Regions from separate parts of the Homo sapiens genome. Here regions 1 and 3 are each linked to region 2. Evidence: fine-mapped expression QTL. A gene starts in region 2. Each other region holds a variant in brackets. All regions are shown on one strand. Distances are from middle to middle.

Region 1 (4,248 bases), 100 kb after region 2:
TAAAATAAGATGTGTTAAAGAAGCTGGCCAAATCCCACCAAAACCAAGATGGTGATGAGAGTAACCCTTGGTCATCCTCACTGCTCATTATATGATAGTTATAATGCATTAGCATGCTAAGAGACACTCACATCAGCACCATGACAGTTTACAAATGCCATGGCAACATCAGGAGGTTACCCTATATGGTCTAAAAACAGGAGGAACCTTCAGCTCCAGGAATTGCCCACTACTTTCCCAGGAAACTCATGAATAATTCACCCTTTGTTTAGCATATAATTAATAAATTATCATAAAATGGGCAACCAGAGCCCAATGCCACTGCTCTGCCTATGGAATAGCCATTCTTTATTCCTTTACTTTCCTAATAAACTTGCTTTCAATTTACTCTATGGATTTGCCTCTAATTCTTTCTTGCATGAGATCCAAGAACCCTCTTTTGGGGTCTGGATCATCTGGTAACAGTTTAAAGTTACCAAAAGATTGTTTCAAATTAAAAGCACAAAAAGGATGCAGATAAAACTAAAATATAAAAAGTTTAAGAAATTTAATTACAAGAAATTATAAAAATGTATGGAAATCTAGTGTGGTCAAAAGATGACAGATTTGATAGATTTATTTATAAGTTCTTATTTAAAAATAGCTTTAGTATTGATAAACTAATATAAAAGTAAACTTTGATTTTTGAACAAAATTGTATTGATATGTATTATTAATAAAAGAAAGCAAATATTTTTGTTCACCTTTTGAGTAAACGAAAAGGAGAGTAGAGAAAAGACAGACTTTATTTCACGCTGTTTTTCTCAAGTCTGTTTATTGGAAAACTGAGTCTCCTCTATCAAAGAGTAAAGTGTTTTGTTTTTTGAAAACATTTTTTGAGACAGGATCTTGCTCTGTCACCCAGGCTGGAGTGCAGTGACACAATCATGTCTCACTGCAGCCTTGACCTCCCAGGCTCAAACAATTATCTCGTCTCAGCCTCCTCTGTAACTGGGACCACAGACACATACCGCCGTGCCCAGCTAATTTATATATATATATAAAATACACACACATACACATATATATACACACCCATATATATATATTTATATGCATAGTAATATTTATATATTTATATATATTATGTTCATATATATTATATAATATTATATATTTTTATATATAGTAAAAAATATATATATTTTACTGATGGGGTTTTGTCAGGCTGGTCTTGAACTCCTGGGCTCAAACCAGGACAGCCAGATTTCCTTATTCAGCCTCCCAAAATGCTGGGATTACAGTCATAAGTTACCATGCTCAGCCCTAAATTATTTTAATTATTCCTTCGGCTACATGAATGACTGTTATTTTGTGATGACCTTTGATCATATGTTAGTCAAATGTTTTAAACCTTTGACATATTTGACAGGCTTCCCAACATCAAATTTGAGCTCCAAAATTGTCTTTTCTTTTACTCAACTTTGGGATGTTACAGAGGGACCCCGCAGCATCCAAAAAAGAGGTAAATGGGATTACAGAATATGTTAAACTACATGGAAATTATTGTCAAATGAATAATGATGTTTAACTTTCTTCAAGTTATATATATATACACATACATATACAATATATACGTATATACACATATACATATATACGTATATACACATATACAAACAAATATATATA[T/AGTAT]GTATACACATATACACATATATGTGTATATACGTATATACACATATATGTGTATATGTGTATACATACTTATATATATTTGTTTGTTTGTTTTTGTTTTGAGATGGAGTCTTGCTCTATTGCCCAGGCTGGAGTGCAGTGGCCCGATCTCAGCTCACTGCAACCTCCACCTCCTCAGTTCAAACGATTCTTCTGCCTCAGCCTCCTGAGTAGCTGGGACTGCAGGTGGGTGCCACCACACCTGGCTAATTTTTGTATTTTTAATAAAGATGGGGTTTCACCATGTTGGCCATGCTTGTGTCAAACCCCTGATATCGTGATACACCGCCTCAGCCTCCCAAAGTGCTGGGATTGCAGGAGTGAGCCATCATGCTAGGCCTCAAGTTATCTTTTAATAAATATGTTATTAATGTTTGTTCCAAAATTATGTGGAATTTCTAAAGTTCTAATATATCTGAATGTACACTATCAGTTATAATTATGGTTATTTTGATAAATTACTGTAGGCCACAGATATAACCAAATTTCCCTGACAGCTGTATCTTTTTTGTTTATTTGTTTGTTTTGAGTCTCTCTGTGTCTCCCAGGCTGGAATACAGTGGTGCGATCTCGGCTCACTGCAGCTTCTGCCTCCCGAGCTCAAGTGATTCTCCTGCCTCACCCTCCCAAGTAGCTGGGACCACAGGCGCCTATCACCATGCCCAGCTAATTTTTGTACTTTTAGTAGAGACGTGGTTTCACCATGTTGGCCAGGCTGGTTTTGAACTCCTGACCTCAAATGATCCACCCACCTCAGCCTCCCAAAGTGCTGGGATTACAGGCATAAGCCACTGCGCCCAGCCACCAACTGTGTATTTAAGTATGACCATTTTAAGTCATATCTATAGTTACTGACTTAATTCTGATGCAGTTTCTAAAAACTTCACAAGCACACAAAATATTAGAGTGTTATGTCTTTAAGGAGGTCATGAAAAGAGTGGTAAGAACCCAGACATGTTGCATACAGGTTTTAGATAACTTTAGGATTGTATCATTTGGACTGGGTAACAACCCTCAGAACTCTAATGAAGGGAATGACTTATAAAACTCCTAATCAAAGCGAGACAAAAATTAATTGAATACCAAGAAAATGTTTTGCCAGATTTTCATACTAAACTAGCCAGTGCTGAGATTGTTTAGATATGCAATTTGAATGAACTCTGTGGTTCAAGTCAAATTCCCTATGATAAGCCATCAGTTATTAGTGCTATGCATCTAAATTGGAGAAACAAACCTGGTATTTAAAAGGACATGAATCCACTGTTAAACATGAACTTGTGGAGAAGCTAGACAGCTACCTGGTTTTTCCTGAGTCTTCAAGGCTTTTATTATTAAAAGCTCTGCATTTCATGACTCATGGAAGAGAAAAAATAATCCAAATTAAATAAATTAAATGTGTGTGTGTGTGTCATGTATGTATGGTGATTGTTTTAAATTGCTAACATAGTTTATAACCATTGTTTGGTTTATCAAATCTATAATTCTAGGAAGACAATTAAAACTTCATGTATATTTTTGAAACCTGATGGGTCATTTAAACATTTGTACACAGGTTTTATTCAATTGTCATTTTCAATGCATGTTTTCTGGTTGTATAAAAACTTTCCCATGCAAGAAGGCTGATGTTACAACAGTAACTAAAATGTTATTAGAAAATATGTTTTTTCATTGGACATTTCTGATAAAACCTTCAATGATAGAAGTACTTATTTCACTGGAAAAGTTGTAAAACTGTAAAATGAATTATTACAGATGCTACAGCATTAAGCAAGGATAACTGAATTGACTGGATTACCTTGGTCAAATGTATTGCAGATTGATGACAATCTGATCCACTTAGTGTGGACAACATCAGTTGACCCTTAAGAAATACTCATTGGAAGGTCCATTCACTTAATAATAGAACTGCATGTATTTTCTGTTACTAAATTGTGATGTGGTTTAATGCAGCAAGGCTTTAATGCATTATGCCAAGGCATATTTTTTTCCAGGTAAAGAAAGCTTTTAATGGTCCACCAACTGAAGGACAATAATCCCATTATAATCTATAACCAAGATACTGAATATCTCCTTTTTATCCACACTGTGGCAGAACTTTGGGACCTTGAACCCCTGGGTTTATAATCTTACATTTCAGAAGGTCCTCTCCAGATTCTTGGAATTTTATTTAACTTAATCAATTAATTAATTTATTTTTGAGACAGAGTCTCGCTTTGTCGCCAGGCTGGAGTGCAATGGCGTGATCTCCCTGGTTCAAGTGATTCTCCTGCCTCAGCCTCCTGAGTAGCTGGGATTACAGGCACGCACCACCACGCCCAGCTAATTTTTGTATTTTTAGTAGAGAGGGGTTTCACAATGTTGGCCAGGATGGTCTTGATCTCCTGACCTCATGATCCGCCCACCTTGGCTTCCCAAAGTGCTGGGATTACAGGCATGAGCCACTAAGCCCTGCCAGAATTTTATATACATCAGAGACCTTTAGGTAAAGCTAACCAGATAAATTTGTCCTCAGAAGCAGATGACATTCTTAACACAGCA
Region 2 (4,248 bases):
GCTGGTCTGGAACTCCTGACCACCCACCTTGGCATCCCAAAGTGTTGGGATTACAGGCGTAAGCCAACGTGCCCGGCACCTCAACTTTTTTCTCAAGAATCAAGAAAGAAAAATCAAGTGCAAAGAATACAGGATGAAGGCAATAATAAAGATAACAAACATCAATGAAATGGAAAAAAAAACATAACACAAATAAACCAAGGCTAAAAGTTGTTTTTATAAACAACATAGTTAATAAACCACTAGCAAAACTGATTAAGGAAAAAAGATTAAAGAACACAAGAGACCAGTATCAGAATCAAAACAACAGCCTACGTAACAGTATTATAACAAGATAATCAGAGAATTTTGTGAAATTCTCCCCGGGAGGCCGAGACTCCTGCTTGTCCTTCCTCCGCTGCCGGCACCCCAGACTCCCGGACTCACCCTCGGCTGGGTTGCCGTCTTCTCCTTTCAGAGATGGATGCCACAGGTTCCGGGCTTCTTGGGCTCTGGGAGGACGCGCAGCGGAAGGCGAGGTCGCTATATGAGGCCGCTCCAAAGTCGCCTCGCGCTGTTGCTGCGTCACTGCCTCCAGCCTCCAGCATCCAGGGAGAGTGCAGGCAAAACTGATTAAGGAAAAAAGATGAAAGAACACAAGTGACCAGTATCAGAATCAAAACAACAACTCTACATAACAGTATTATAACAAGATAATCAGAGAATTTTGTGAAATACATATGATCAAAAGTCTGACAACAGAGATCGCAACAGATGCTGAACCCAACTTACTAAAACTGGCACAAAAATAGCATAAAATAAGAACACTCCTATATATATTAAACAAAATTAACTAACTAATTTTAAAAATCCAACAAATCAACAATAATGCTCCACAAGGAAAACACCAGGATCAGACTTTGAAAATGTTCCAAATATTTAAGGAAGAAAAAAATATTGACACTGCTCACTCTCTCTCAAAGAGAAAGACGAAAGGGATGGTTTTTCAATTTGTTTCGAGAAGCCAGCATTACATTAATACACAATCTGATCAGACAATAAAAAACCCAGAAATAATAGATGTTCTGTTTCACAAACACAGATACAAATATTCTAAGAAAAATATTGTTACATGAACTAAACCAAGCAAGAAATTAAAACTGAAATTAAACAACAAAGACCAGAGTAGGAAACAACAACCTACAATAGAAATGAACCAATAAAGGACTAATCTCTAAAGTGTCTTTAAAAATGCTTCACATCAATGTAGGAAAAACACAAATGATCCAAGACAAAAAGAACACTATGAAGGAAAAAAAAGGGGGGTGCATGGGCGAATAAATATTTGCTAAGCCGTACTATGAAGAGGGTTATTTCCAGTTCCAGATGAGAGATACCCACAGGCAGCCCGGGGGGTGGGACCCCAGGGGACAGGACCCCCAGAAGGTGACAGAGATCCTGGCAGTGGGGGACCTGGGGCAGAAGGTGACCCCATCCTCTTCCCGGGCTGCCGCTCAAGGCTCCTGCCGCTCCCGGGCTCCAGCGCCCTCTCACCGGGTCCTGATCAGGGCTCCCTTTCTCACCCCGGGTCAGGCAGAAGGCCCCGGACCCCAGTCCCAAAAGAAACGGAGGCTGCAGGGCTTCCACGCAGGAGAGAAGGGGAGGGCTCCTCTCCGACCCGGGCTCCTTCAGCGCCCACCCCAGCGGACTCTGAGAGGGCGAGGAGGAGGTCGGGGGCTAGGTTCAAGCCGCACTGGGCCCCGGATTCAAGAAAGAAACGGGCTCCTGAGACGCCTGTGCATCAGAGGGGTCCTGGCTCGGCCTGGGATGGGGCTCGGGGAGAGTCAGACGATCTGCCAGGCTCCCAGCCTGAGGCCGCCCTCCCCGGCGCGCAACCCCCGCCCCCACCGCTGGGGCCCTCCTGCCTTTCCCGGCACGTCGCTCCCCGAGAGGCCGAGACTCCTGCCTGTCCTTCCTCTGCCGCCGGTATCCCAGACTCCCGGACTCACGCGCGGCTGGGTTGCCGTCTCCTCCTTTCAGGGCTGGACGCCACAGGTTCCAGGCTTCTTGGGTTCTGGGAGGAGGCGCAGCGGAAGGCGAGGTCGCTGCATGAGGCAGCTCCAAAGTCGCCTCGCCCTCGCGCTGTTGCTGCCTCACTGCCTCCAGCCTCCAGCATCCGGAGAGAGTGCAGGCAGGCGGCACCCAGTTCTCTTCCTTCTCCTCCTGCCCACGGCGGAGCAGCCTCCAGCATCCAGGGAGAGTGCAGGCACGTGGTGCCTGGCCCTCTTCTTTCTCCTCCTGCCCAGGGCGGAGCCATACAGACCACGCTGCCTGGAGCAGGGTGAAATGCGGAAAGCCCACGGAGCAACTATTTATAATGACTTATTTAACTAGATATCCTGTAAGGCATGTTCGGATTGGATGAGAGCCACTGTGCAAAACAACTCTGATTGGATAATATGACCCAATCAGGGCTGGCTGAAATGTTCCTTCTCGTCCTATCAGACTCAGGGTATAGATGCTGGGGTGGGGCAGGAGCCAGCGCCCCCACCGGAATTTGTGGCCACTTCGCCTTTGGCTTTGCCTCCTGCCATGCCCCGCAGGCCCGGAGAATGTGGCCCCAGACTGAAATGAGAAGAAGGTGGCCCCGCCGAGGGTGAGTCTGGGGAGGCTGGAGTGGGGGCTGTGAGGGGGTGCCCGGGCAGGAGTCTCGGCCTCCGCTGGGAGCAGCATATTCAGTGTGTAATGTGAATAACAGGCAAAATAGGTCTTAATTTTTTGTATTATTAGTGACAAAGACTTCCGGTCAACCGCAGGCCGTTAGGAGTTATGCTTTGGGGGAGTTGAGAGTTAAACTTGGATTTTTGACTGTGGGGGGTTAGCATCCATATCCCCCACATTGTTCAAGGGTCAGGTGTATTTTAGAGCACTGGCATGAATCACTTTGGGTCCCACTTGTTGAAAATAGGCATTGACATTTGGAGGCGCCTCCTTGTAGCGAGCAGGTACTACTGATCTCTCTCTTCCACGTACTGACCTTTCCCCAGCTTCTGTGGAACCCTGTTTCCTGGAGTTTACTTACATTCTTTAGTCAATTCTTCTCTAATTCTTCTGAAAGTGGATTTGGAGCAAGGGAAGAGAAACCTGCAGTCTTGGCTGTGTCCAGGTTTTGGTTCTGATTCTTGTGTGCGGTCCACATTCAGATTGGGGTCCTTAATGAAATCCATGGCTTCATCTCTCCTTGCATGCCAGCATCACCCAATCGTGTATAGTTAAACTCGAACTCCCTTTGCACCACAGACTCCCATCTCCAGGTGTTTAACAGGAATTGGATACTGAGCATGTGATATTTTTACCTAAACCTAAATACATCTTTTTTCCTTGTTTCCCTGTGTGCTTGTCCCCTGCCCAACCATCAGCACCACAAATCTAGACGCCTAAAATTCATCCACCTCCTTTGTAATGGCACCCAACCACCACATACAATCCTTTTAAATATCTCAGTTCTGTATTTGGAAAATTACACATTTTAACTGTCTTTTCACTTCATTGCCTTTCCATTACTCTAGGCCCTCATGGTTTCTTCACTGTTAGACTAATGAGCTATGAGTGTTTACCCTCCTAATCCTGCATACTCCTTAAAACCTCAGGCAGAAAATGGAAATTAAACTCGTGGGCATTCAAGGACACCCCCACGATTTTCAGGGTAAAGTTTTTATGGCTTAGCTTAATGCCCAACGACTTTCACATTCCTCTGTTGATAATTTCAATCTCTTGAAATTCTCTCAAACAAAAATAACTAACACTTGTTAACAACTTCGTGTTTCCAGGAAATACTTTAAGCAATTAAAGTCATAATTAAAGTAACATATGCAAAAACCCTATCAGTACTGCTTTTATACTTAAAGTTTTGTTTAAACGTAACCCTGTTTACTTGTTTATGTGTTGTCTATGGCTGCTCTCATGCTGCAGAGGTCGAGTAGAATATGGAATAGATGATGTGGACCACAGCTCCAAACATGTTTACTGTTTTGCCATTTTCAGGAAAAGTTGCTGGATGACTCCTAATCTAGTTGAATGTCTGTGTTACTAGTACAGGGAGATCCTTGCCAGCCAATGTCAGATAAACAAGTTGATTTTATGGACAATTTGTCTCATATATACAAGCACATTTCCAGTTTTTGTAACTGTTAACGATTTATTTTCCCACTTAGTTTGCTCCCTGTAACTTTGAGTGGCTCAACTATTCATCCTGTTTTGATTTCTTCA
Region 3 (4,248 bases), 670 kb after region 2:
GACTATGGTGATAAAGGAAATATCGTCACATAAAAACTAGATAGAAGCTTTCTGAGAAACTTCTTTGTGATGTGTGTGCATTCATCTCACAGAGATGAACCATATTTTTTATTGAGGAGTTTGGAAACAGTTTGGAAACAGACCTTTTGTAGAATCTGTAAAGGGATATTTGTGAGTGCTTTGAGGCCTATGGTGAAAAAGGAAATATCATCACAAAATAACTAGAGAGAAGCTTTCTGAGAAACATCTTCATGATGTGTGCATTCATCTCACAGATTTGAACCATTCTTTTGATTGGGGAGTTTGAAAACAGTCTTTTTTTGTAGAATCTCCAAAAGGATATTTGGGAGTTCATTGAGGCCTGTGGTGAAAAAGGAGATATCTTCACATAAAAATTAGAAAGAAGCTTTCTGAGAAACCTCTTCATGATGGGTGCATTCGTCTCATGGAGTTGAACCTTTCTTTTCATTGAGCAATTTGGAAACTGTCTTTTTTAGAATCTGTAAAGGATTGTTTGGGAGCGCATTGCGGCCTACTGTAAAAAACGAAATATCTTCACATAAAAACTGGAATGAACCATTCTAAGAAAGTTCTGTATGATGAGTGCATTCATCTCACAGAGTTGAATCATTGTTTTGATAGAGTAGTTTGGAAACAGTCTTTTTGTAGAATCTGCAAATGGATATTTACAAACACGGTGAGGTCTATGGTGAAAAAGGAAATATCTTCACATAAAAACTAGAAAGAAGATTTCTGAGAAACTGCTTTGTGATGTGTGCATTCATCTCTCAGAGTTAAATATTTCTTTTTATTGAGGAGTTTGGAAACTCTGTTCTTCTAAAATCTACAAAGGGATATTTTTGTGCGCTTTGAGGCCTATGATGAAAATGTTAATTTCGTCACATAAAAAATAGACAGAAGCTTTCTGAGAAACTTCTTTGTGACGTGTGCATTCATCTCACAGAGATGAACCATTCTTTTTGTTGAGCAATTTCAAAACAGTCTTTTTGTAGTATCTGCAAAGGGATATTTGTGAGTGGTTAGGGGCACTGGTGAAAAAGGAAATACCTTCACATAAAAACTAGACAGAATTTTTCTGAGAAATTTCTTTGTGATGTGTGCATTCATCTCACAGAGTTGAACCTTTGTTTTGATTGAGCAGTTTAGAAACAGTCTTTTTTTCAGAATCTGCAAAGGGATATTTGGGAGCGTATTGAGGCATATGGTGAAAAAGGAAATATATCTTCCCATAAAAACTATAAAGAAGTTTTAGAGAAGCTGCTTTGTGAAGTGTGCATTCATCTCACAGAGATTAAATTTTCTGATGATTGAGTAGTTTGGAAACTCTGTTCTTCTAGAATCTGCAAAGGGATATTTGTGAGCACTTTGAGCCCTATGGTGAAAAAGGAAATATCTTCACATAAAAACTGCAAAGGAACTTTCTGAGAAACAGCTTTGTGATTTGCCCATTCATCTCACAGAGGTAAATGTTTCTTTTCATTGAGCAGTTTGGAAACTCTGCTCTTATAGAATCTGCAAAGAAATATTAGTCAGTGCTTTGAGACCTATGTTGAAAAATGAAATATCTTCACATAAATCTAGAGAGAAGCTTTCTGAGAAATTTCTTTGGATGTATGCATTCATCTCACAGAGTTGAACAATTCTTTTGACTGAGAAGTTTGGAAAGAGTGTTTTTTGCAGAATCTGAAAAGGGATATTTGGGAGCATGTCATGGCCTATGGCGAAAAAGGAAATATCTTCACATATAAATCAGAAAGAATCTTTCTGAGAAACTGCTTTGTGATGTTTGCATTCATCTCAAAGAGGTAAACGTTCCTTTTCATAGAGCACTTTGGAAACTCGAATCTTCCAGTATCGGCAAAGGGATACTTGTGAGTGCTTTGAGACCTATG[G/A]TGAAAAAGGAAATATATTCACATAAAAACAAGACAGAAGCTTTCTGAGAAACTGCTCTGTGATGTTCACCTTCATTTCACAGAGGTAAATGTTTATTTTCATTGAGCAGTTTGGAAATTTTGTTCTTCTAGAATCTGTAAAGGGACATTTTTCAGAGCTTTGAGACCTACGTTGAATAATGAAATATCTTCATATAAATCTAGACAGAATCTTACTGAGAAACTTCGTTGGATGTGTGCATTCATCTCACAGAGTTGAACCTTTCTTTCGATGGAGCGGTTTGGAAACAGTCTTTTGGTAGTATATGCAGAGGGATATTTCTGAACAGTTTAAGGCCTATGGTAAAAAAGGAAATATCTTCACATGAAAACTAGACAGAAGCATTCTCAGAAAATACTTTGTGATGTGTGAATTTATCTCACAAATGTAAACGTTTGTTTTTCTTTCTTTTTTTATTCCTTAAAATATTGTTCTATATATATATTATTTTGTTATTATACTTTTTTAAATTTTAGAGTACATGTGCACAACACGCAGGTTAGTTACATACGTATACATGTGCCATGCTGGTGTGCTGCACCCATTAACTCATCATTTAGCATTAGGTATATCTCCTAATGCTATCCCTCCACCCTCCCCTCACCCCACAACTGTCTCCAGTGTGTGATGTTCCCCTTCTTGTGTACATGTGTTCTCATTGTTCAATTCCCACCTATGAGCAAGAACATGCGGTGCTTGGTTTTTTGTCCTTGTGATAGTTTACTGAGAATGATGATTTCCGATTTCATCCATGTCCCTACAAAGGACATGAACTCACCATTTTTTAAGGCTGCATAGTATTCCATGGTGTATATGTGCCACATTTTCTTAATCCAGTCTATCATTGTTGGACATTTGGGTTGGTTCCAAGTCTTTGCAATTGTGAATAGAGCCGCAATAAACATACGTGTCCGTGTGTCTTTATAGCAGCATGATTTATAGTCCTTTGGGTATATACCCAGTAATGGGATGGCTGGGTCAAATGGTATTTCTAGTTCTAGATCCCTGAGGAGTCACCACAGTGACTTCCACAATGATAGAACTAGTTTACAGTCCCACCAACAGTGTAAAAGTGTACCTATTTCTCCACATCCTCTCCAGCACATGTTGTTTCCTGACTTTTTAATGATTGCCATTCTAACTGGTGTGAGATGGTATCTCATTGTGGTTTTGATTTCCATTTATCTGATGACCAGTGATGGTGAGCATCTTTTCATGTGTTTTTTGGCTGCATCCCATTCACAATTCCTTCAAAGAGAATAAAATACCCACGAATCCAACTTACAAGGAATGTGAAGGACTTCTTCAAGGAGAACTACAAACCACTGCTCAACGAAATAAAAGAGGATACAAACTAATAAAAGAACATTCCATGCTCATGAGTAGGAAGAATCAATATCATGAAAATGGCCAAAATGCCCAAGGTTGTTTATAGATTCAATGCCATCCCCATCAAGCTACCAATGACTTTCTTCACGGAATTGGAAAAAACTGCTTTAAAGTTCATATGGAACCAAAAAAGAGCCTGCATCACCAAGTCAATCCTAAGCCAAAAGAACAAAGCTGGAGGCATCATGCTACCTGACTTCAAACTATACTACAAGGCTACAGTAACCAAAACAACATGGTACTGGTACCACAACAGAGATATAGATCAATGGAACAGAACAGAGCCCTCAGAAATAACACCACATATCAAAAAACATATGATCTTTGACAAACCTGAGAAAAACAAGCAATGGGGAAAGGATTCCCTATTTAATAAATGGTGCTGGGAAAACTGGCCAGCCATATGTAGAAAGCTGAAACTGGATCCCTTCCTTACACCTTATATAAAAATTAATTGAAGATGGATTGAAGAACTACATGTTAGATGTAAAACCATAAAAACCCTAGAAGAAAACCTAGGCAATACCATTCAGGACATAGGCATGGGCAAGGACTTCATGTCTAAAACACCAAAAGCAATGGCAATAATATCCAAAATTGACAAATGGGATCTAGTTAAACTAAAAAGCTTCTGCACAGCAAAAGAAACTACCATCAGAGTGAACAGGCTACCTACAAAATGGGAGAAAATTTTCACAACCTATTCATCTGACAAAGGGCTAATATCCAGAATCTACAATGAACTCAAACAAAATTTACAAGAAAAAAAAAACTATTGAAAATTGAGTGAAGGATATGAACAGACACTTCTCAAAAGAAGACATTTATGCAGCCAAAAAACACATGAAAAAATGCTCACCATCACTGGCCATCAGAGAAATGCAAATCAAAACCACAATGAGATAC

Direction of the effects. Positions count from the first base shown, and alleles are read on the strand shown. Sizes are in standard deviations (SD) of each study's normalised expression. Not every link is listed here.
For the expression in prefrontal cortex of the gene that starts at base 2,378 in region 2, allele AGTAT in region 1 goes with a lower level than allele T (moderate effect, 0.41 SD a copy in BrainSeq).

Evidence for each region. PIP is the estimated chance that this variant, and not a neighbour inherited with it, causes the effect. A credible set is the group of variants that fine-mapping cannot tell apart.
Region 1: its variant is the best candidate, but not a certain one, in a credible set for the expression of LINC00839 in prefrontal cortex (BrainSeq, PIP 0.63).
Region 3: its variant is the best candidate, but not a certain one, in a credible set for the expression of LINC00839 in hypothalamus (GTEx, PIP 0.78).

What each region holds. Positions count from the first base shown.
Region 1 is chr10:42,372,596-42,376,843 of GRCh38, reverse strand. No RefSeq gene overlaps it. Among named protein-coding and RNA genes, the nearest start is that of LINC00839, 100 kb to the left of the region's middle. The variant T/AGTAT (reference allele first, on the strand shown) is at 1,672.
Region 2 is chr10:42,473,621-42,477,868 of GRCh38, reverse strand. LINC00839 (long intergenic non-protein coding RNA 839) reads right to left here and starts at 2,378. Exons shown (of 5, transcript NR_026827.1): 1 at 1,989-2,378; 2 at 427-608.
Region 3 is chr10:41,804,292-41,808,539 of GRCh38, reverse strand. No RefSeq gene overlaps it. Among named protein-coding and RNA genes, the nearest start is that of LINC00839, 670 kb to the left of the region's middle. The variant G/A (reference allele first, on the strand shown) is at 1,914.